Regions from separate parts of the Homo sapiens genome. Here region 1 is linked to region 2. Evidence: fine-mapped expression QTL. A gene starts in region 2. The other region holds a variant in brackets. All regions are shown on one strand. Distances are between the middles of the regions.

Evidence for each region. PIP is the estimated chance that this variant, and not a neighbour inherited with it, causes the effect. A credible set is the group of variants that fine-mapping cannot tell apart.
Region 1: its variant is the best candidate, but not a certain one, in a credible set for the expression of TRIB3 in left ventricle (GTEx, PIP 0.68).

Annotation. Positions count from the first base shown.
Region 1 is chr20:709,767-721,498 of GRCh38, reverse strand. No RefSeq gene overlaps it. Among named protein-coding and RNA genes, the nearest start is that of SCRT2, 40 kb to the right of the region's middle. RefSeq lists an enhancer at 1,100-1,604. The variant G/A (reference allele first, on the strand shown) is at 7,303.
Region 2 is chr20:375,303-387,034 of GRCh38, reverse strand. It overlaps TRIB3 (tribbles pseudokinase 3), which reads right to left and starts at 6,275. Exons shown (of 4, transcript NM_021158.5): 1 at 5,866-6,275. RefSeq lists an enhancer at 4,158-5,156 and silencers at 4,842-5,431, 5,702-5,811, 5,832-5,991.

The sequences.
Region 1 (11,732 bases), 330 kb before region 2:
GACTGACCCACAATGGGTGCCCACCAGTGTGTGCTGAATGCATGAATTACGGGGGGGTTATACCCCACACACAACAGGGAGCCCCTTCAGGGCAGAGAGAGGCACTGAGGCACGGCTGATTGCCTCCCTGGGCCTCAGTGTACCCACCTGTCAAATGCCAGGGAGGCTTCTTCCAGCCCCAAGTTTCTGCCATTACATCCCCCTAGAAGTACTCAAGGGACAGCATCTTGAAATTTAAAAAGAGGGGCATGAGCAGGGTTGGAATCCCGGATCCTCTACCCACCTCTACCGCAAGTCACTGACCTCTCCACACCTCAGATTCCTCAGGTGTAAAAGGAGCTAATGTTCTTCACCACCCAGGGAAGCTGACAGGGATGAGTGCTAAGGCACAAGAGGGGATAAATCTTGACTCCACCACTGGGCAGATGACTTAATCCCTCATTTTCCCCATCTATTAGATGGGGACGATTATATTTGCTTGGCCAGGTTGCTCTGATCTGAAACTGCATTCATCCAGGTAAACACTCTGCACAGAGCCTGGCATGTGGTAGATGCCTGGGGCAGTTGTGGATGGGACACAGTCTCTCTTCAAGAAAAAGCTTGTCCTTCAGCAGCAAGGAGGGCAGCAAGGTGACAGCCTCCAGCTGCAGCTCCTCCAGGAGCCGCCTTGGCTTTGGAACTGAGGCCATGTTCTTCCCAGGTCGTCCCAGCCAGACTGAGCTAGCAGAGGCACCAGGGCCTGGCCATTTCTGCCCCATGTGGGGCTTCTCTGTGGATAATCTTTACTCCAGAGACCCCTAGAGGGTGACTCTGCAGGCCCGGGCTGTGGTCTGAGGCTCTCCTGGCCAATTCCATTCCCTCCTGCTTTGTGTTTCACAGGTAGCAGCCCTCACTAACCCCCTTGCCCTCCTAACTCTCTCCCAGCACCAGCACCGAGGGGCACCCAAACTGAAAGGCTGCTCAATGGAGCAGTGGTTCTCAAAGTGTGTCCCAGAACCCCCAGCATCAGCATCAACCAGGATCCTGTAAGACATACACATTCTCAGGCCACACCCTACATTTAGAGATGGAAATGCCTGGAAATCTGCATTTTAACTGATCCTTCCAATGCACTCAACTTGGAGAACTGCTGTCACAGAGGACAACAATCAGTAAGATATGCACAGCAGTGTGGCCAGGGTGTGTGTGTGTATGTGTATGCACGCACACGTGCCTGTGTGTGTTTTGTGGGAAGGGGAGAATGTTTATCACAGCCTCAGCAATTTACCACCCCCCAAGGCCCTCCCTCATTTATTTCAAGAACCCCGAGGGCTAGGCCAACAAGCCTCCCTCCCTGCCCATTCAGGAGGAAGGTCCAGTCCCAACCTCCAGCTGGAGACTCTGCAGGCCCAGTCTGTGAGGCTGCACATAAGCCCAGCCTTCTTTCCTCCTGCTCCTACGCTCTCTCCCCGCCTTCCTCCCCAGGGGCACCCAGCCCCAACCGCCCGCCTCCTCTTTGTCTGCCAATCTGTCTCCATCCCGTGATGAGCTCCCGGCCTCAGCCAGCCAGTCTGTGCTCCATCTTCAGGATGGAGAGTGAGGCCTCGATGCTCCCAACTACTTCCCACTCACCCTGGTGAAAGGTCACTGAGAATGGTTCATGCCACCAGCTTCACTTCCGCCTCCCAACCCGTCGCCCAGGTGGAGACCCTGCCCAGTCTAGGCCAATAATCGCATCTCCTGATGGATAGGAGACATCCTATCCATCCTATCTTCAAGAAAAAGCTTGTCCTTCAGCAGCAAGGAGGGCAGCAAGCTGACAGCCTCCAGCTGCAGCTCCCCCAGGAGCCGCCTTGGCTTTGGAACTGAGGCCATGTTCTTCCCAGGTCGTCCCAGCCAGACTGAGCTAGCAGAGGCACCAGGGCCTGGCCATTTCTATCCTATCCTATCCTTAGATAGGGAGACATCCTCCCTATCTAAGACACTCAAAACCTCATTATGTGACAAGAGAGGACAAAGGGGACAGAGGTGCAGAGGCTTGCCCAGGGTCACATACCAAGAGAGGGGAGCAGCCAGGAGTTGGCCCCTGCTCTCTCCTTCCACCTCAGATTCCAACTCCCAGGCCCTGGCAGGTGGCAGGTGATGGTTCTGAGGTGGTCACGTGTGGCGGGGACACTGTTGGCCCTGGAAAACCAAGACCTTTGTGAACTCACAAAAGCAGCACGTGCTTCTTTCTCTAGTGGGCGTGGTGGTCCCTGTCCTGCTCACCGATGCCACAGCCCTGCAAATAAGGCTCAGGCAGGGGGACACTGCCTGTGGGTCACATGGCTGCCTTCCCTTTTCTAAACTGTCAGTAGGTGATACATCAGCACCTTCCTTCATGATGCCCAGCCCATCCCTCATCCTGCCCCACCTCAAGGAACCCTGGAATGTCAGGGCCAGAATAACAGTGACAGTTATGACAGATTACTTGCTATGTGGCAGGCATGACTGGCAAGTGCTCCAGACATCATTGTATTTATTTATTTATTATTATATTTTTTATTTTATTTATTTGTTTTGAGACAGAGTCTCACTTTTTTGCCCAGGCTGGAGTGCAGTGGCTCAATCCTGGTTCCACTGCAACCTCCACCTCCCGGGTTCAAGCGATTCTCCTGCCTCAGCCTCCCAAGTAGCTGGGATTACAGGCGCCCGCCACCACACCCGGCTAATTTTTGTATTTTTAGTAGAGACAGGGTTTCACCATGTTGGCCAGGCTGGTCACGAACTCCTGACCTCAAGTGATCCACCCGCCTCAGCCTCCCAAAGTGCTGGGATTACAGGCATGAGCCACCGCGTCCGGCCCATCATCGTATTTCATTCTCACCAGGAGCGCATGACAGACATGCAGCTCTCAGCCCACTCTACTGACATGGACATAAAACTCAAAGAGACAAAGCACTTTAACTCCAACTGCGCTAGACCAACTCCTCCATTTGATAGATGGGGAAGCTGAGTCCCAGAGAGGTGACATGATTTCTCCAAAGACACACACTAGTCAGTGTCAGAGTCAGCCTTTTCCAGGCAGCTTACCCCCTGAGAGTGACCATAGTTCACTCACACGCCACTTTAGAGTTTGTCAAGCTCTCCTCTCCTCTCAGGAAGGGAAGGGTTTCTTTTGTTTAATGGTTCTCACTCTGGGATGCTTATATGATGTGCCAAGCAAGCATGGTTTGAAAGCTTTGTAAACATTAACTCATTTAATGCTCACAAATACCCTATGATGCAGATATGTTTATTGCCCCCATTTTGCAAATGAGGAAACAGGCACAGAGAGCTGGAGTAAACTGCCTAAAGTCACACAGCCAAGATTCAAATCCAGGCTGCCTGAGGTATTAACTACTATGATGTTCTGCCCTTTTTACTGCCAAAAAAGCCTGAGGCTCAAGGAGAGGACATGACTTGCATGAGGCCACACACTAGAGTGGTGGTGGCTGGACTGGAGCCCAGGCGTCCTGCCTCCACGCCCAGCGCTGGCTCTCCACCCCCCGCCCCACTCCACGGGGCTCTTTCTCACTCTATGTTGATTCACAAACATCAGTTGGGAGCCTTCTTTGGCCAGGAGGTCTGCCTCAGTTCCCCTACCTAACAGGTGAGGCAAACAAGAAACAGACACCTAAAAAACAAATGGATAAATGGGTTCATGGAGGTACCAGAGGCAGCTGTGGGAGTACCAGGCAGGACACAGAGCCACCCTGGGAAAAAGAGAAGGCTTCTGGAAGTCTGATCCTTGAGTTGAATCTCCAAGTTCAAGTGGCACCCTTTCCGGAAGGACAGAATGGAATAGGGCATCCCAGACTGAGGAAACAGCACGTGCAAGGGTTGGGGTATGGGAGAGTGTAAATTGTTGTGAAAAGTACTGTTCAACCCCACGCAAGGGAGGGCACAGAAAAGGCTGTCCTGGAGGATCATGGAAAGAGTCTCAGAGAGTCAGAACGCGGGAGTCCTGACCACAAATCTGCCCTGTCTCACAGTGACCTTGGTATTCCCATCTGTAAAATGGATTGATATCTAAGCACTCTGCCAGCTCCATCCTTCAGCTGGTGGAGTTAGGATGGCTTTGAGTAGGGGGCTGGTTTTGATGTGAGGGCAGAAGGTAAGGGAGGAAAGGCATTCTGGAAAGGAGGACCTGTAGGAGCAAAGGTCCAGAGAGAGAAAGTGCAGAGCAGGCATTAGAAATGGTAAGGACGGCCAAACACGGTGGCTCACGCCTGTAATCCCACTACTTTGGGAGGCCAAGGCAGGAAGATTTCTTGAGTCCAGGAGTTCAAGACCAGCCTAGACAGCATAGTGAGACCCTGTCTCTATGAAAAAAAAAAAAATAGCTGGGCATGATGGCAAGCACCTATAGACCCAGCTACTTAGGAGGCTGAGGCAGAAGGACTGCTTGAGCCCAAGAGGTCAAGGCTGCAGTGAGCTGTGATTATGCCACTGCACTCCAGTCTGATCAACAGAAAGAGACCTTGTCTCAAAAAAAGCAAGCAAGCAACGGTAAGGAGAGGATGTAGCTGCTGTTGATGGTCCATTGGATGGTGCAGACAGGGGACACATATGAAGAAGTTGTATCAGTCTGGACTCTTCAGTTAGAAGTGAAAGAAATAAAAAAAAAAGTAATTATTAATTTATATAACTGAGAAGCCCAGGGCACTGGCTTCTGTTATGGCTGAATCCAGGTGCTGACATGTTACTGTGAGGATCCTGTCTCTCTCTCTATCATGGCTTTGATTTCTTTCTTGTAGGCCTCACTCTCAGGCAGCCTGTAACCTCATGGAGGCAAAGGTGGCCACCACTACCTCTGGAATCCATCACACAAACTACACTTCTGGTGGAAAGGCTCCCAGTAGCCCCACAAAAACCTCAGAAGCAGCTCTTGCCAGACTTACTTCCTAGAATTGTCATGAAGATTAAAGAAGTTAATAGAGCTTAGCCCAAGCTCTGGTACACAGCAGGTCCTCAGTCTTTGCTGTAGCTCAGCCAGAGAACTTGACATTATCCTGGACTATTCTCTGTCTTCACATCTAACATTAGATCTGTTTGCAAATCTTATTGGATCTACATATAAAAGAGATCTAGAATGCATACAGTTCTTCCCACCTCCACTGATAACAGTCTAGTCCAAGCCACCTTCATCTCCCTACTTTGTTTTCTAAGTTTTATATGTATATAGTATATTTATATAGTAATATATTCATGTATTCAATTCAATTGTGAACACAATTTAGACGTGTACATCCAGCTCAATGAATCTTCACACAGTGAGCAGATGATGTAACCTCCCTCAGATCAAGATACAAGACACCGACAGCACCCCAGAAGCCTCCTTCATCCCCGCTCCTAGTTATTCACCCCCTTGGTAGTGTGTCCTTTCATGTGTCTGAGTCACTAGCATTCACCTGGCTTAGTGCACTGGTTCCCAGCAAGTCTCTGGCTTTCTCTCTTGCCCTCTTATCCCTTTCAGTTAATCCAATCGATTCAGAGATCCTGTAAAAGATGTCCTCCCTCTGCTCAAAATCCTCCCATGGCTCCCATTTCATTTGGTGTAAAAGCCAAAATCCTCTCCATGGCCTGCAAGGTCCTACACAAGCTGACACCTCATCCCTCCCTCTCCCCACTTTCCCCACATAACTCTCTGCTCCAGCCATACGTGCTCCCTTCCTTCCTCAAACACACTACCCGCACTCTCAGCTATACACGCAGGAGACCATTGTACTTGCTGTTCACACTGCCTAGAATCTCCTTCCTCTCCCCACTCCCATATCCTCTTGGTTCACTCCATCAACTCCTTCAAGTTTGTGTTCAAATGTCACCTTCTCATATCTGCTTCCACCCAAGATGGAGTATCAGAAACTGAATTTACTCTCCTGCTTGAAACAATCAAACAAACAAACCAAACCAGGCAAAATACATGAAACTGTAATTTTTAAGACTCTAGGCAACAGGCAATAAAGGATCATGATCCCTGAGAAGTGGGAAATAAGATGAACCCTATCATGGCCTCAGTTTGCCGCTTGGAGAGAGTTTTCAGAACCTAGTGCAGGGAGGAGGAACCCAGGCAGCACCCAGGAGGCTTCCTGAGTTAAGGAAATAGAGTTGAGAGTCCAGGAAGGACAAAGAGGGCAGAGTTTGCAGGACACAGTATTGGGAGGAAAGAGTTGCACAGAGAGACTATTCCAGAGATATGAAGAAAGTCCCCCTTGAGTATTAGACTGAGTACTGGTTGGTGCTTTTGTATGATAAAACTACACTGAAGTAGGGGTGAAAATCATCTGATAAGATTAGAGAACAGTGCTCAGCACTCACACAAAACCAGAAATATTAATAAACAGAAAAAACCCTCATAATTTCTGGGGTACTGGGTAGAGTGCTCAGGAAGGTCTTTTCTCAACAGTGGTATATAATTAGCCCTCAACAGATAGCACTGCTCTGGACCCACTCAACAAATTATAAAAGCAAGACTAGGAAGGATAAAACTGTTTCCAAGTAACTTAATTGCATCTTAGAGCAAAACTGAAGGAGATTTATAGAAATATAAAAGTGTACAGCACCCAACAAGGGTAATGTTCACAATGCCTGGCATCCAAAGTTTACCATGCACGTAAATAAGCAAGAAAACATGGCCCATACAAGAATAATAATCAATCAATTGAAACTGACCCAGAACTGATACAGAAGTAGGAGATAAGAGCATTAAAATAAGTATTCAAATTGTATTTCATGGTCTGCATGTTCAAAGGTTAAGGAGAGACTTGGAAGATATAAAATGACCCAAACTGAACTTCTAGAAATGATAACTACATGTCTGAAATGAAAAATATGCTGATGTGACAGAAGAAAAGATTAGAGAATTTTAAGATGTAGCAATAGAAACTACCCAAAATCGACGACTCAGAGAAAAAGAAAGAATCCAAAAAACCAAGAGTATTAGGAGCTATGGAACAACTTCAAGAAGCCTAATATATGTGTCTTTGAAGTCCCCAAAGGAGAGGAAATAGAAAATTAATGGCTGAGAATATTTCATATCTGATATAAACTATAAACTCACAGATCCAAGAAGCTTAACGAACCTCAAGCACAAGAAACAGGAAGGAAATTACCCACCATGAACGAATTGCTCAAAACCAGTGACAAACAGATAAATATTAAAAACAGTCAGAGAAAGAAAAGCCTTGTAAAGTATAGAGAAACAAAGATAAGGATAATGGCAGATTTCTTGTTGGACACAATTTAAGGAAGAAAATAGTGAAGCAACAACATCTTTTAAGCTAATGAAAGAAAAAACCTGCC[G/A]ATCTAGAATTCTATACCCAGTTAAAATATCTTTTAAAAATGAAGATGAAATAAAGATGATTTCAGACATACAAAAGCTGAATGCATTTGTCACCAACAGATCTGCACTGCAAGAAGTGATAAAGGAAATCCTTCAGGCAGAAGGAAAATGATACCAGATGGAAATCTGGATCTACATAAGGGAATGGAGGTCACCAGAAGTGTTAACTACATGAGTTAAATATATAAAATCTTTTCTGATTATTTAATTTAAAAAAAGATAACTTAGCATTTAAACAAAAATAATAACATTTTGTGGAGTCTGTCACACATATGTATGTATGACAACAACAGCAAGAAGGCCAGGAAGGAAATGAAAGTATACTATTACATGATTTTCTTTTTGAGTCTTGCTCTGTCACCCAGGCTGGAGTGTAGTAGTGCTATCTCAGCTCACTGCAACCTCTGCCTCCCAGGTTCAAGCAATTCTCCTGCCTCAGCCTCCCGAGTAGCTGGGACTGTAAGCATGCACCACCATGCCTGGCTAATTTTTGTATTTTTAGTAGAGACAGGGGTTCACTATATTGGCAAGCTGGTCTCAAACTCCTGACCTCAGGTGATCCGCCCACCTCAGCCTCCCAAAGTGCTGGGATTACAGGTGTGAGCCACCGTACCCAGGCTTATAAGGCCTAATGTAACTACTAAGATAACAAACAAAACATTACAGTTAATAAACCAACAGAGAAGGTAAAACGATATAATAAAAAAGGAGGAGTTAAAATGAAATAGTAAAAAAAACTGAGCTTATACAAAAGAAGACAGAAAAAGAAGAAAAAGGAAGCAAAGAACAGATGGGACAAAAATAAAACAAATAGCAAGATGATAGACTTAAATCTAACCACGTCAATGATCACATCAAATGTAAATGGTCTAAATACCCTCAATTAAAAAGCAGAGATTGTTAGATTGGATTTTTTTAAAAAAATAAGACCCAAATATTGTTTTTTTTAAAAAAAAAAAATAAGACCCAACCTTCAAAACGGCACACCTTAAGTGTAAACACACAAGTTAAAAGTACAAAGATGGAAAGTAACAGTAATCAAAATAACACTGGAGGAGTAGCTAGTTTCATATCAGACAATGTTTGTTTCAGAGCAAAGAATATTACCAGGAAAGATAAGGTCATTTTATAATGATTAAAAAGGTCAAGGCTGGGTGCGGTGGCTCACGCCTGTAATCCCAGCACTTTGGGAAGCCAAGGCAGGTGGATCACAAGGTCAGGAGTTTGAGACCAGCCTGACCAACATGGTGAAACCCCATCTCTACTAAAAATACAAATATTAACTGGGCGTGGTGGTGCACACCCGTAATCCCAGCTACTCAGGAGGCTGAGGCCAGAGAATCTCTTGAGCCCAGGAGGCGGAGGTTGCAGTGAGTCGAGATTGCGCCACTGCACTCCAGCCTGGGCGACAGAGCAAGACTCTCCATCTAAAAAAAAAAAAAAAAGGTCAGTTAATCATGAGCATATAACAATTCTAAATATTTATGCCCCCAATAGCAGAGATTCAAAATACATGAAGGAAAAAGTGAATGACCTGCAAGGAGAAATAAATCCACCTTATCAACTGAGATTTCAAATCTCCATAACTGAAAGCAGAAAGAAAATATTGTCACTTTCTTAGTGAGTCCTGCCTTGACTCTCAATTTCAATTGCACCTTCTAAAATAACATTTATTTATTTATTCATTTTTATCTATTTATTTGTATAATGTCTAGAATGGTGTCTGGCGCTTAGAAAATTCTCAAAAAAAAAAACTGTTAAATAAAACCAAGGTCAAAAGGATGTTAATTGCTACTATCATGACTAGTATTATGTGACTCTGCACATAGTCTTTCTCTATTGTTATTTGAATGGGTAGACCCCAACAAAATTAATACTGAAGACTCAATCTAGAACATAAGGGCGGAAATCAGAACTTCACCATATTCGTGTAAGATGCATAGGATGGGAAAATTCTAAAAAGTCAGAAGAATACAATGTTAGAATGTAGGATGCTTAGGGGCAGAACATCAGAATCAGAGACCAGAGTTGATGAGGAAACTAACCCTGCTATGCATGGGGTGGGAGTAGGGGTTGGTCAGAGCCAAACAGCACTTTCTAAAATCCCACCTGCTGGTTCTGGGTGTCTCCTAACTCTAGTATCCATAAGGAGATGTCCATCCTGCTAACCCAACTAACCCAGCTCAGCAAGGCAAAGAGACTGAGAAACTATTCACCCATGGCTTCAGGAGCAGCAGGAATGAAGGGAGTAAGTGGGGAGGAACAGGAAGGGGGGAAGGGAGGCCGTATTTTCCATTTTAATTCAGCTCCTGCTCACCAGGCCCCTTCTGGACTGTGGGCTCATGAGGCATCGTGGTCATGCAAGACTGGAGTATGTCATTATCAGAGGGAAACACTACTGCCACCACCTCAGGGCTAGGGGCAGAGGTTGCAGCAGTCTGAGGCCTGCCCATCTTCCCAGGGACCCTGCCCCATGCAACAGAACTGGCTGGAGGCTGGGTCCTAGTGGGTGGGGACATGAGGCTACTTAGGGACCTAGTTCCCTAGACCCAGGAGTGTGGCCCTTTCCTGCCCAGGCAATGATACACACTGTATTGGGGATGAGGGTAGGGGTCTGGCAAGTAGGGCCCACCCTCCTAATCAGGTGCCCTGCTTTGTTTTTATCTAAAGCTCATGTCACCTAGTGACCTACCTCATGTCTTACATGTTTATTTTATTTCTCATTCATCTTCCGAAGGAGACTGCGAGTCTGTGAAGGCAGCCAAGAACTCTGCTCTGCTCACGGTTGTCCCTAGCACCTAGGGACGCTACCGTGGACTCCGCACACAATAAGCGTGCCAGCCATGCTGTTCTTGGATGGAAGAGATGAAGCTGATTTCCCAGCCCTGCACACAGGGATTCTTCGCACACTGGATCACACCCTTCTTGTAGAAACTAGTGAAGGCTGTGCCTTCTCTACCCAAAAACTCACACAAGTCATATGCTGATGAAGACACTTCTCAAAGACCATAGACACACACACACACACACACACACCCAGCCCCAAGCTCAGCACAGACCACAGGTTTTTTGCCAAGCTTCACCCTACCGCCAGCTGTGAGATGAAACTCAAGGGCCTCTTTCCAGCACCAGCCATTTTTGGTTTTCCCTGTGCCCCTCCAAGGAAAATCACAGAAAACAGCAAGAACCAGCACTTGTGAGCACTCACCGTGTACCCAGCACTGCGCCAACACGGTCTCAGCCCATCACCTCCACCGCCCCGGGCGCAGGGTGGTTACCTGACGCAAATCCTCAACGGCGAGTAGGGAGAACTGTTGGAACCCCTTTCTGAACCACCACGCTATTGGCCTCTAAAATAGGCCCAGATTTATCCTGCCTTTGGGCCTCTGGTTTTCAACACTACCTGAATCACAGGCTACCTTTCTGAGGCTGGGTCAACTGCTGGCAAAACCCCAGAAAAATGCACAAAGAGACACTGTCAGGCAAATTCCCAGGCCTCTCCCTCCCACCTCCCACCTCCCCTAACCCCCACCCCCAGCCATGGGAGCCTGTAGATCCCCAAGCCAATAACCAGGCGTTAAGCACCTGCGGTACGAGATGGGTGGCAGGGTCCCCCTCTTTTCTGGACACCGCTGGGAACCCTCCGCCCCACAATTCTTCAAACTGCTGCTGTGCTTCCCCCCCACCTTCTTAATTAATACCGCACTGCTTGACAGGGCGGCCCCGCGTGCGAGTGGGCGTGCGCGCGCGTGTCTGGGGGCTGGGTGGGGGGGCCGGGGGGAGGGGGTGCTGGCTGCCTGCCCAAGAGCGAGACCCCGCCCCCAGCCCCCGGCCGCTGGAGGATTGTGAAGCTCAAACAGATGGACCGAGCCAAGGGGCGGGGGCGCGCGGATGGGGTGCGAGACGGCAGCGCGGCGGCCGGGCCTGCGGGCGCCCTGACAAAGGCGGGGCCGCGCGGCGAGGGGCGCCTTATCTGCGCCAGCAGACCGGGCGGCCCGGGGGGCGCCCACGGCCCACGCTCGGGCGCACAAAGGCCCGGGGCCGGGAGGGGGTGTGGGGGGCGCGAAGATTAATTGCCCAATCAAGTTGTCGGCGCGGGGCGGGGGCGCGGGCCTCGGCCCCGGGGGACGCGGGACGGCGCATAATGAAGTGTGCGAAAAGTTAATTTGCTCCGCGACTCGCTGCTCACCACAATCAAAGGCGGGCGGAGGGGAGCGGAGGACCGAGCAGTGTCCCCCCCACCATCCCCTCCCCCGACCCCAGCTCGTGATCCAAAGGCAGGATGAGGGGGTCACAGGGCACACGGAGTGGAGGACCGAGCAGTGTCCCCCCCACCATCCCCTCCCCCGACCCCAGCTCGTGATCCAAAGGCAGGATGAGGGGGTCACAG
Region 2 (11,732 bases):
TCACGCCTGTAATCCCAGCACTTTGGGAGGCCAAGGTGGGCGAATCATGAGGCTGGGAGTTCAAGACCAGCCTGGCCAACATGGTGAAACCCTGTCTCTACTAAAAAATACAAAAATTAGGCCAGGCGCAGTGGCTTATGCCTGTAATCCCAGGTAGCAGCACGTGACCAAGGCAATGCCAAAGTGCAGCCCACGGCAGCACTTTGGGAGGCCAAGGTGGTGGATCATGAGGTCAGGAGTTTGAGACCAGCCTGGCCAACATGGTGAAACCCCATCTCTACTAAAAATAGAAAAATTAGCCAGGCGTGGTGGCGTGGGCCTGTAATCCCAGCTACTTGGGAGGCTGAGACAGGAGAATCACTTGAACCCGGGAGGTGGAGGTTGCAGTGAGCTGAGATCACACCACTGCACTTCAGCCTGGCCAACAGAACAAGACTCCGTCACGGGAGAAAAAAAAAATTAGCCGGGCGTGGTGGTGCATACCTGTAATCCCAGCTACTGGGAAGGCTGAGGCAGGAGAATCGCTTGAACCCAGGAGGCAGAGGTTGTAATGAGCCGAGATTGTGCCACTACACTCCAGCCTGGGTGACAGAGCAAGACTCTGTCTCAAAAAAAAGTATTTTGTAATCAGAAATGTACATTTAAGGAAATAAATACCTGCTTAAAAACACAGCTTGTTTCTAAAAATTATAGTTAAGAAAATCAACTAATCTCATAATCCATGGCTCTCGTACATTCACAGATGAGAGATATGATCTTGTTCATTCACTTAACACTGGGTGCTAGGAAGAGAAGTAGGTTAGACAGCAGTCTTGCCGTCAGGATCTTCCAGTCAATTTGGAGGGCAGATGAGTAATAAAATCACGTCCAAGGCTAGGTGCAGTGGCCCACACCTGTAATCCTAGCACTTTGGAAGGCCATGGTGGGAAGACTGCTTGAACCCAAAAGTTCAAGACCAGCTTGGGCAACATAGTGAGACCCTGTCTCTACAAAAAAAAATTTTTTTTTAATTAGCTGGGTGTGGTGGTGGATGCCTGTAGTCCCAGCTACTTGGGAGGCTGAGGTGGGAAGATTGCTTGAGCCTGGGAGGTTGAGGCTTCAGTGAGCCATGTTTGTGCCACTGCACTCCAGCCTGGTGACAGAGTAAAGACTCTCTCAAAAAAAAAAAAAAAAATCACATACAGTGTGATCAGCCCTACTATACAGAGAAGCATGGGCCTCTAGGAACCCAGAGAGGCCTCTCTCCTGGGCTGGTGGGTCAAGAGAGGTCTTCCTAGAAGAGGTGGTGTCTACACTGAGACCTGAAAGTGAGGCAGAGTTAGCCAGGTGACACGGAGAGTCATACTGCGGTTCAGTGGTTCTCAAACTTGAGCAAGCATTGAGATCATCTGGAGGCCTGTTTCAACATACATTGCTGGGCCCTACTCCCAAAGTAGCTCATTCAGAAGGTCTGAATCTGCATTTCTATCCAGTTCCCAGGTGAAGTTGATGCCGCTGTCCAGTAACCCCTGTTCTGGGGTGAGGGAAGAGGCAAAAGAACATGCTGCATGTTCCCCAAGAACACGGTGGAGAATGAGCGTGACTGCAAAAAAAAGTGAAAAGTTAAAAAAAAAAAAAAAATAGGCCGGGCGTGGTGGCTCACACCTGTAATCCCAGCACTTTGGGAGGCCGAGGCAGGCAGGTCACCTGAGGTCAGGAGTTTGAGACCAGCCTGACCAACATGGTGAAACCCCGTCTCTACTAAAACTACAAAAATTAGCCGGGCGTGGTGGCACACGCCTGTAATCCCAGCTACTCAGGAGTCTGAGGCAGGAGAGTTGCTTGAACCCAGGAGGCAAAGGTTGCGGTGAGCTGAGATAGTGTCATTGCACTCCGGCCTGGGCGACAAGAGTGAAACTCCGTCTCAAAAATAAATAAATAAATAAAAATAAGGTGAGGTTAGTAGAGGCCCTATTGTGAAGGGCTCTACGAGCATCATATGGCAGAGGTGGTTAGTGGTCCCCAGTTTCAGGTCTCCCCTCCTTACATAGGATTAGAACCTGAGATTTTCAGCTGAGCACAAGGACACCTAGAATAAACTGCATTTCCTGTCTCCCTTGTATCCTTGTATCAGCATATGGCTAGTAGGACACAAGTGGAAGTGTTGTGTACAATGCCCAGGACAGTGTTCTTAAAGGGAGGGCCCAACTTCCTCATTTCCTCCTTTCCTGTATGCTGGAATGTGGACCTAACTGCTGGAGCTCCAGCATCTACCTTGGCTTCAGAAGTACCACATACAGTAGAGCAAGAGAGGAGCCTAGGTCCCTGACACATGGAGTTGTCAGGCCAGACCTCCAGGTTTTTTACACAGGAGAGAAATAAACATCTATTGAAGGCTGGGCGCAGTGGCTCATGCCTGTAATCCCAGCACTTTGGGAGGCCGAGGCAGGCAGATCACAAGGTCAGGAGATCGAGACCATCTTGGCCAACATGGTGAAACCCCATCTCTACTAAACATACAAAAATTAGGTGGGCATGGTGGTGCATGCCTGTAGTCCCAGCTACTCGGGAGGCTGAGGCAGGAGAATCACTTGAGCCTGGGAGGCAGAGGTTGTAGTGAGCTGAGATCTCGCCACTGCACTCCAGCCTGGGGACAGAGCAAGACTCTGTCTCAAAAAAAGAGAAAAAGAAGAAAAAAACGTCTATTTCATTTTAGCTATTAAGTGGCTGTTTCTATATTACAGCTGAGCCTAATCCTAATTAACACACAATAGGATTTGGAATTATCCAAAGGCAGTGGGGAGCCACTGAAGGATTTCAGCAGGGGAACATCATGCTTTTAGGGTGGATTTGAAAGTACAAGACGGGGCAGTGAGACTAGCTAGGAGGCCCACACAAGCACGAGTCCAGGCAGGAGAAGGTGACCTGGACTAGGGGGTGCTAGATGGAGACGCGAAGTTAAGGGCTCATAGGAGGAAGATCAAGAGGACTCAGTGGCAGACTGGATGGACTGGATGGATTGGATGTGAGGGGTGAAGGAGAGGGTGGAATCGAGGTGAGGTCCAGCCTTTGGCTCCTGCAATGAGGAGGGATGATGGCTTCATGTCCTGAGCTGGGGGAGAAGCCTGTATTTTGGGGACTGTGGAAGAAAACTGTTAAGTATTTCAGACCCTTATGTCTTGGCAGTGTCATGAAAAGTGGGTTTATACTGTGGAATAGTGGCAGTGCAGCCACTAACAATGAAGACAGTGCTAGTGGGAGGATAAAAGGTACCACCTCTGAGGAGTGCATTTTGACAATATCAAAATGAAAAACAGGCTGGGTGCAGTGCTTCATGCCTGTAATCCCAGTACTTTGGGAGGCTGAAGCAGGAAGATCACTTGAGCCCAGGAGTTCAAGACCAGCCTAGGCAACGTAGCGAGACCCTGTCCCTAAGAAAAAAAAAATTATCTGGTCATGATGGCACACAGCTGTAGTCCCAGCCATGCAGGAGGTTGAAGTAGGGGAATCACTTGAGCCCAGAAGGTAAAGGCTTCAGTGAGCCATGGTCAGGAACTCTAGCCTGTGCAACAAAGTGAGACTGTCTCAAAACAAAGCAAAACAAAACAAAACAAAAACAACGATGAAAAGCGTGTGAGCTTTGATTCAGCAATTAATCCCATTGCTAAGAATTTATTCTGTAGAGGTGTGTGTGTGTAAGCATGCAAATACACAGTTATTCCTGCAGCCCTTTTGACAGAAATAATTGGCTGTCTATAATTACAGGGCTGGTTACATAAATTATACTTCATCCACACAACGGAACAATGTGCAGCCATTTAAAAGGTTGAGGATGCTCTTTATAGGGTAATTGGAAGGATCTCCAGAGTGAACTGTTAAGTGAAAGGAAAGCCACCATTCACGCAGCTGTGTGACTGTGTGTGTGGTGGCTGAAGGAGAGGGCAGTAGGGCATGGTCAGGGCAGACGGGTTCTCTCTAGAACCCATCTGCCCACCCACTTAAACTCCATTCCAAGGAGGTGCATGCCCAGGTATGGGCATTGGTGCGAGAGACCTCAGCCTGGTTAAAGACCTTCCCAACAGTTCAAGGCAGGATTAACAAGGCAACATGAGTCAGTTACCAGACAGAGGCCCACCTCTCCAAGTACGCTGCTCCCAAATGGAAGAGCTGCCTTGGAAGGGAAGGCCTCCCCACATGAGTGAAAGGTCATGACTTTGGCTTGGTAAGAATGCAGTAAGGAGTGGCTGTAGTCAGATATTCCTGGGTTCTAATCCTGTCTCAAACCCTTTCTAGCTGGGGGGTACCCCTGGTCAAGTTCCTCAAGCTTTCTGAGCCTCAGTTCCTGTAAAGTGGGAACAGGATGCAAAGCTTACAGGTTTTTCGTGATGATGAAATGAAAACACAAATGAAGCATGTAGAGCTTATGGACCTGTTGCCAGGTAGGTGTCAGGAAATGGTCATTATTAGCACTCATCCTGTTATTCTTCACAGCAAGATGCATAAGTACCATCCTTGGGAGTCTTAGAAAGCTCCCCAGGTTCGAGGCTGGGATGACACTCCTTACATCTCAAGGCTGTTCTGAGTCACGCAGGATGATACCTGGCTGTGCACATGCTTTGTGCCCTGTGCAGCAGGAGACTGCCTGGAGTCCCTCTGGCCTGTGCCACATCAGTAGTCCAGGCTGCCTTGGCCCCGGCCATCCCTCAGAGCCTGTTGGGGCCTGGGATAAGCTCCACCCAGATGGGGACAGATGCGGTAACTGAGTCTATACATCTTGGGCAAGGCATTTTGCAGACCACACTGCAGAATAGAATCTGTGATGTGGAATGAAAGCAGCCCCTAATATCTACCTCTTGCTGTTCCCTGCCACACTCGGGACCCAGGGAAATGAGGGCGGGTTACATCAAGCGCAAGCGCGCGCGCGCACGCACACACACACACACACACACACACACAGCCCTCCCAGCTGTCACACCCATGGTCTACCCGAGCAAGGCCGCACCCCCACCCCGCCCCGCCCCCCGCAGCCAGGCCCCTCCCGTGGGAGCCCAAGCGAAAGGCGGCGGGTGTCCGAGTCAGAAGTTTCAGCGGAAATTGAAGCGCGGCCCTGGGACAGGAGGGGGGTGAGGCAGAGGGAAGGAGGTGGCTGTCGTCCCCCGCCCTCCCCGGTCTGCAGGCACAGCACACACCGCAGACACGCGCGCACCGTCCACCTGCAAACCCGGAGCCGCGCACTGGGGAGAACCAGCGGCCCTGCCGGGCCAGAGATCGCGCGCTGCGCCCCCGCTCCCACTCCCTCGGCTCCCCCGCTCCAGGGCACCCCAGCCCTGTCCCGGCGGTGTCCCCTGCACCGCCAACCCCTGCCACCAAGTGCCCAGCCCTCCAGACAGCTCTCACCATCTCCTGAGACACAGGTGCTCGGGACCCACCCTCACCCAGGACTCTCCCCTGCGGGTTCACGAGGACCCCCTCGGATCCCCCGCCACCCCCAGAGTCCTCCAGTGCCCCCCACAAGCCCCTCACCGCACCACACGACTCCCCTATCCCGCACTCACGCAAAACAGACCCCCGCACGCCCTCCTCTAGGGGTGACGGCCGGACACCTCCGTCCCTGGCTTCCCCAGCCCAACTCGGGCGACCCCACGCTCCGCGGGGCCGCGTCACCTGAAGCCCGGGGGGAGCACTCAGCCCAGGCCCGGATCAAAAGGGATCTGACCTGGCCGCGCCCCGACGGCGGGGTCTGTGAAAAGGTGTGTAAGGGGCGTGCGTGCGTGTAACACGCGGCAACACGCAGACGCCCAGAGGCTTCCGGCGCCCCCTTCCCCGGCCGCCCCCTCCCGCCCCCCGGCCTCCGGGCGAGTCCGCAGGCCGCACCCCGCCGAGTACCTCGCCCCGTCGTTCCGCGTGGGCCCGGGCGCCGCCGGGGCTCAGAGCCTCCAGGGCACCAGCAGGTGGGCCGGCCCGCTGCGCTGCTGCCGAGCTCGGGATCCCAGCCCAGCTCCAGCCCTGCCCGGGTCCTAGCAGCGGACGCGCGCGGAGCCGCCTCCACTTCCGCTGCGAGTCTCGTGCGCGCCCGGCCCCCGGTCCGGGTGATGCAAACCGGAGCTAATCCCCCGGTCCGGGTGATGCAAACCGGAGCTAATCCCCCGGTCCGGGTGATGCAAACCGGAGCTAATCAGCCGCCGTCTGATGCCCTCGGGCCCGGGATCGCACCATCCCCCGCGCCGCGCCCGGGCCTCTCTCCTCTGCATCCGCTGCACCTGGGACCCGCCCTCGCTGGCCCCCTAGGGGCGTCTGGTCAGTGCAGACATCAGCCACGGACTCTCCCTATCACCTTGGAAAAAAAATTTGCTCTTTTTTTTTTTTTTTTTGAGACAGAGTCTTGCTCTGTCGCCCAGGCTGGAGGGCGGTGGCGCGATCTCGGCTCACTGCAAGCTCCGCCTCCCGGGTTCACGCCATTCTCCTGCCTCAGCCTCCCGAGTAGCTGGGACTACAGGCGCCCGCACCACGCCCGGCTAATTTTTTGTATTTTTAGTAGAGACGGGGTTTCACCTTGTTAGCCAGGATGGTCTCGATCTCCTGACCTCGTGATCCACCCGCCTCGGCCTCCCAAAGTGCTGGGATTACAGGCGTGAGCCACCGCGCCCGGCCAAAAATTTGCTCTTCTGAGCCTCGGTTTCCCCACCTATGAAATGGGAAGAACATTCCTCCTTCTCAGGATGGTGCTTAAAAGAGCAAACAGTGACTGTTGTCGGGGTGCTTCCCCTTTTTTATAAAGCACATTCCCAGCACTGCCTTATAAAACCTTTAGGAGAAGTGGACATGCGGGAATCTCCATTCTCCACATTCTACTGAGAGCCAGCCTGAGGCCCAGCTATGGGCAAGTGGTTCAGAAGCTTCAGGAAGGCCTATGGACTTAAGAGCTGACTCTGGGCTCAAAGGAACCACCGTGGCGCCCTTGGGAGGCCTAAGGTCTGCTGAGCTTCCCCGCGTCCCTTTGCTAGAGGCAGTGCGGCCTAGTGGTGAAGAGCCCCTAGAGCCAGCTGGCCTAAGAGTGCACTCCACCTCCGCTCCAACCCACAGTGCTACCCCAGAAAAGCTACCTAAAACCCTGCCTCAACTTCCTGCTCCATAAAATGGGCTCATAATTGCGCTCACTTCATAAAGTTGTTGTGAGGATTAAATAATTTAATATGTGTAAGACGCTTAGAACAGTGTGTGGCACATTGCGGATGCTCAGTGGAGTGTAAACAATGGAGACAGAGAGGGAAAGAGGCCTTTAATATGCTTGCACCCAAGGCCTGGGAGGGCTTGGTGCTACTTGATTTGGGGTGAAACACCCCTCTGCGTCCTAGGCGTCCAGCACCTTTCTTTTTTTTTCTTTTTTTGAGGCAGAGTTTCACTCGTTGCCCAGGATTGAGTGCGATGGCACGATCTCGGCTCACTGCAACCTCCACCTCCCGGGTTCAAGCGATTCTCCTGCCTCAGCCTCCCAAGTAGCTGGGATTACAGGCATGCGCTACTATGCCTGGCTAATTTTGTATTTTTAGTAGAGACAGGGTTTCTCCATGTTGGTCAGGCTGGTCTCGAACTCCTGACCTCAGATAATCCACCTGCCTCGGCCTCCCAAAGTGCTGAGATTACAGGCATGAGCCACCGCGCCCGGCCTGGGTCCAGCACCTTTCTTAGAAATCCCTTTTGATCTGAATTCACCAGTGTCAAAAAATAACTCCTCAGCTGGGTGAGCTGGCTCATGTCTGTAATCCTAGCACTTTGGGAGGCCAAGACGGGAGGATTGCTTGAGGCCAGGAGTTTGAGAACAGCCTGGATGACATAGTAAGACCCTGTCTTTACAAAGAGAAAAAGATAGCGGGCATGGTGGTACGAGCTTGTGGTCCCAGCTACTTAGGAAGCTGAGGTAGGAGGATCACTTGAGCCCAGGAGTTCAGGTTACAGTGAAACGTGATTGTGCCACTGCACTCCAGGTTGGGTGACAGAGTGAGATCCTGTGTAATAAATAAATAAGTAAGTAAGTAAAATAACTCCTCTAGAGGCTGGGCGTGGTGGCTTATGCCTGTAATCCCAGCACTTTGGGAGGCTGAGGCAGGTGGATCACGAGGTCGGGAGATCAAGACCATCCTGGCTAACACGGTGAAACCCGTTTCTACTAAAAGTACAAAAAATTACTAAAAATACAAAAAACACACCTGTAGTCCCAGCTACTCGGGAGGCTGAGGCAGGAGAATCGCTTGAACCCAGGAGGCAGGAGTTGCAATGAGCTGAGATTGCGCCATTGCACTCCAGCCTGGGCGACAGAGCAAGACTCCGTCTCAAAAAAAAAAAAAAAGTAAAATAAAATAAAATAACTCCTCTAGGCAGAGGCTGGATGGGAGGCAGGGTGGAGTCATATTTGTTTTCCTGTTTCCAAATCCCTGGGGACCAGCTCACCTGTGTCCCAGAGCCTTCAGGGTATACCAGGGCATTCTGGGATCTCATTTAATCCTGGCAACTCCCCTGCTGGGGAGGGGTGAATAAACTCATCCTCTATCCTGGGACACCGAAATGGTTAGGAAGATCCCACAGCTGTGAGGGGTGAAGAAAGGTGGGAGGGCTGTTTCCTGAGCACCCCTCTGAAGGTGTGCTGGGTTTGCTTGTACATTCCCAACTAACGTTGTTTTGTGCTGTGTCAGCCCCTGTTCTAAATGCTGGGGACTCAGCAGTGACCAGAATGATCCACCCCTGCTCTTACAAATCTTATAAATCAGTGGAGAGATAGACCATTATCAGGAAAATAAAATTAAAACCATGATCATTTAAAATAGATTGCATCATGCATTTTCTTGAATAAAATAGGAAAGACTTGTTCTCCGTCATGACTGAGGGTGGCCATTTTCAGCAGGGCTTATCAGAAAGGTGATGTTTAAACTAAAAGCTGAGGGAAGAGAAGGGGTGAAGAGTGCAAAGATGTGAAAGGGAGACAGAGAAAAACAGTAAGTCACCTCCATTCTGCAGACAAGAAGAGTTAAGGTAAGGGACCTACCCAAGACCACCCAGCTGGTCGTATAAGACTGATTTCAGGCTGGGCGCGGTGGCTCACGCCTGTAATCCCAACACTTTGGGAGGCTGAGGCAGGCGGATCACCTGAAGTCAGGAGATGGAGACCAGCCTGGCTAAGGTGGTGAAACCCGGTTTCTGCTAAGAATACAAAAATTTAGCCGGGCGTGATGGCATGTACCTGTAATCCCAGCTACTCGGGAGGCTGAGACAGGAGAATCGCTTGAACCCAGGAGGCGGAGGTTGCAGTGAGCCAATTGCGCCACTGCATTCCAGCTTGGGCAACAAGAGTGAAACTGCATCTCAAAAAAAAAAAAAAAACAAAAAGACTGATTTCAGATTTGAACTTGGGGCAGCTGACTCCAGTGCCCATGCCATCCTGGGATATTTCACGAGCTTTGTATCCCTGCAGCCTCCACATGGACCTATGGGTATCGTGACAGGAACGGCACCCTGGGTATGGCCCCCAAATTTTGGTGACTTGTCACAGCTGGGTTTGTCAAATCCCAATTCTCTAGACCATTCTGTGTTCCAATAGAAATATAATGTGAGGCTGGGCGCAGTGGCTCATGCCTGTAATCCCAGCACTTTGGGAGGCGGAGGTGGGTGGATCATGAGGTCAGAAGATCAAGATCGTCCTGGCTAACACAGTGAAACCCTGTCTCTACTAAAAATACAAAAATTTGCCGGGCATGGTGGCACACACCTGTAATCCCAGCTACTCGGGATGTTGAGGCAGGAGAATCACTTGACCCCGGGAGGCGGAGGTTGCAGTGAGCCGAGATCATGACACTGCACTCTGACCTGGGCGACAGAGTGAGACTCCATCTCAAAAAAAAAAAAAAAAATTAAAATATTCAATAAAATAAAAAATTCTCAGTCACACTAGCCACATTAGCCATACTTGAAGTGCTCAATAACCACATGTGGCAAATGGCTACTGCTATGGTTTAAATGTGTCCCCCAAATGTCATGTGCTGGAAACTTAATCCCCCAATGTGGCAGTACTGAGCGGTTGGGACTTTTAAGAAGTGATTGGATCATGAAGCCTCTGCCCTTATGAATGGACTAACCCACTCATGGATTAATGGATTTGTGGGTTTTCACAGGAGGAGAACTGGTGGCTTTATAAGAAGAGGAAGAGAGACCAAAGCATAGCATGTCAGCATGCCCAGTCCCCTCTCCACGCTATACCCTGTGCCACCTCCAGACACTTCAGAGACCAGGAATAAGGCCCTCACCAGAAGTGCCCCCTCAATCTTGGACTTCCTATCCTCCATAGCTGTAAGGAATAAATTCCTTTTCTTTCAAAATTGTTCAGTTTCAGACATTCTGTTATAAGCAACAGAAAACAGACTAAAACCACTACCATATTGAGCACTACCACCCTGTACCAAGAATTCCTAACACATGGTCCAGGGGTACAGCAGAGGCAAAGAGTCTAGGTAGGCTGGAGTTTGGCTCCTAGATCTACACCAGAAACACCAAATAGCCTCAAGCCTCAGTTTCTGCATCTATAAAATGCAGTTAATTATACCTCCCTTGCATTGCAGTCATAAGGATTCAATGCATTGGGACTGCCTCATGTCATAGTTGTATCACATTTCTTGGGTTCAAAACCACATCTATTTTGGAAAAGTTACTTCAGCTCTTTGTACTTCAGTTTCCCCATCTGTAAAATGGGGATAACAATAGTTCCTACCTCGTTGGTTTGCATGAGAATTAAATGACAATATTTGTAAAGTGACTGGAATATAAATGCTATATAAGCATTTATTTAGAAGCGAGGAAAAGAATGGTGACCAACCTCCCAAAATTAAATGCAGAAATGTACTCTTTTCTGGAGAGAGAGTCAGGCTTTTATGAATTTCTTTCTCCAGGCTCAGAACATCTTTCTACTCAGATTTCTGAGCCCAGAAGGCTGCTTTTCTCTTTCCTATAGGTTTGGTTTTTTGTTTGTTTGTTTGTTTTTTTGAGGCAGTGTCTCGCTCTGCTGCCCAGGCTGGAGGGAAGTGGCATGTGATCTTGGCTCACTGCAACCTCTGCCTCCCGGGTTCAAGCAATTCTCCTGCCTCAGCTCCCTGAGTAGCTGGCATTACAGGTGTGGACTACCACACCTGGCTAATGTTTTTGTATTTTTAGTAGAGACGGGGTTTCACCAAGTTGGCCACGCTGGTCTCGAACTCCTGACCTTAAATGATCCGCCCACCTTGGCCTCCTAAACTGCTGGGATTATAGGCGTGAGCCACTGTGCCCGGCCTCTTTGCTATAGTTCTGATGAGTTCCGTCTCTGACCCCCAGCACTGATGTGGGGCCCACAGCAATGACATGAGCCATGCCTGCCTCCTTTCCTTCCACATGGGTGTCCCTAGTGATTGCCATATGCCTAAAATTCCACCATAGGTGTCCTTGAAACTTTTCATCTTCATACATTTCCCCCACAAAAGTGACATGATGCCTTAGAACTTCTGGTTGCGTTCCAAGTCTGGCTGAAGCCACTGAGCCTGTGAGATTGTGGACAAGTCACCTCCCTTTGCGGGGGCTTCAAATTTCTTATCTGTAAAATAAGAAGAGAAAGTTGGAGTAGGTCAGTGAGGTCAGTGTTTTCTGAAATATACCATGTACAACAATGGCTGAGTGCCAGAGGGTTTTAGGGTCTCCAGATACCGTATGACATAACTTTGAATCATAATTGTGAT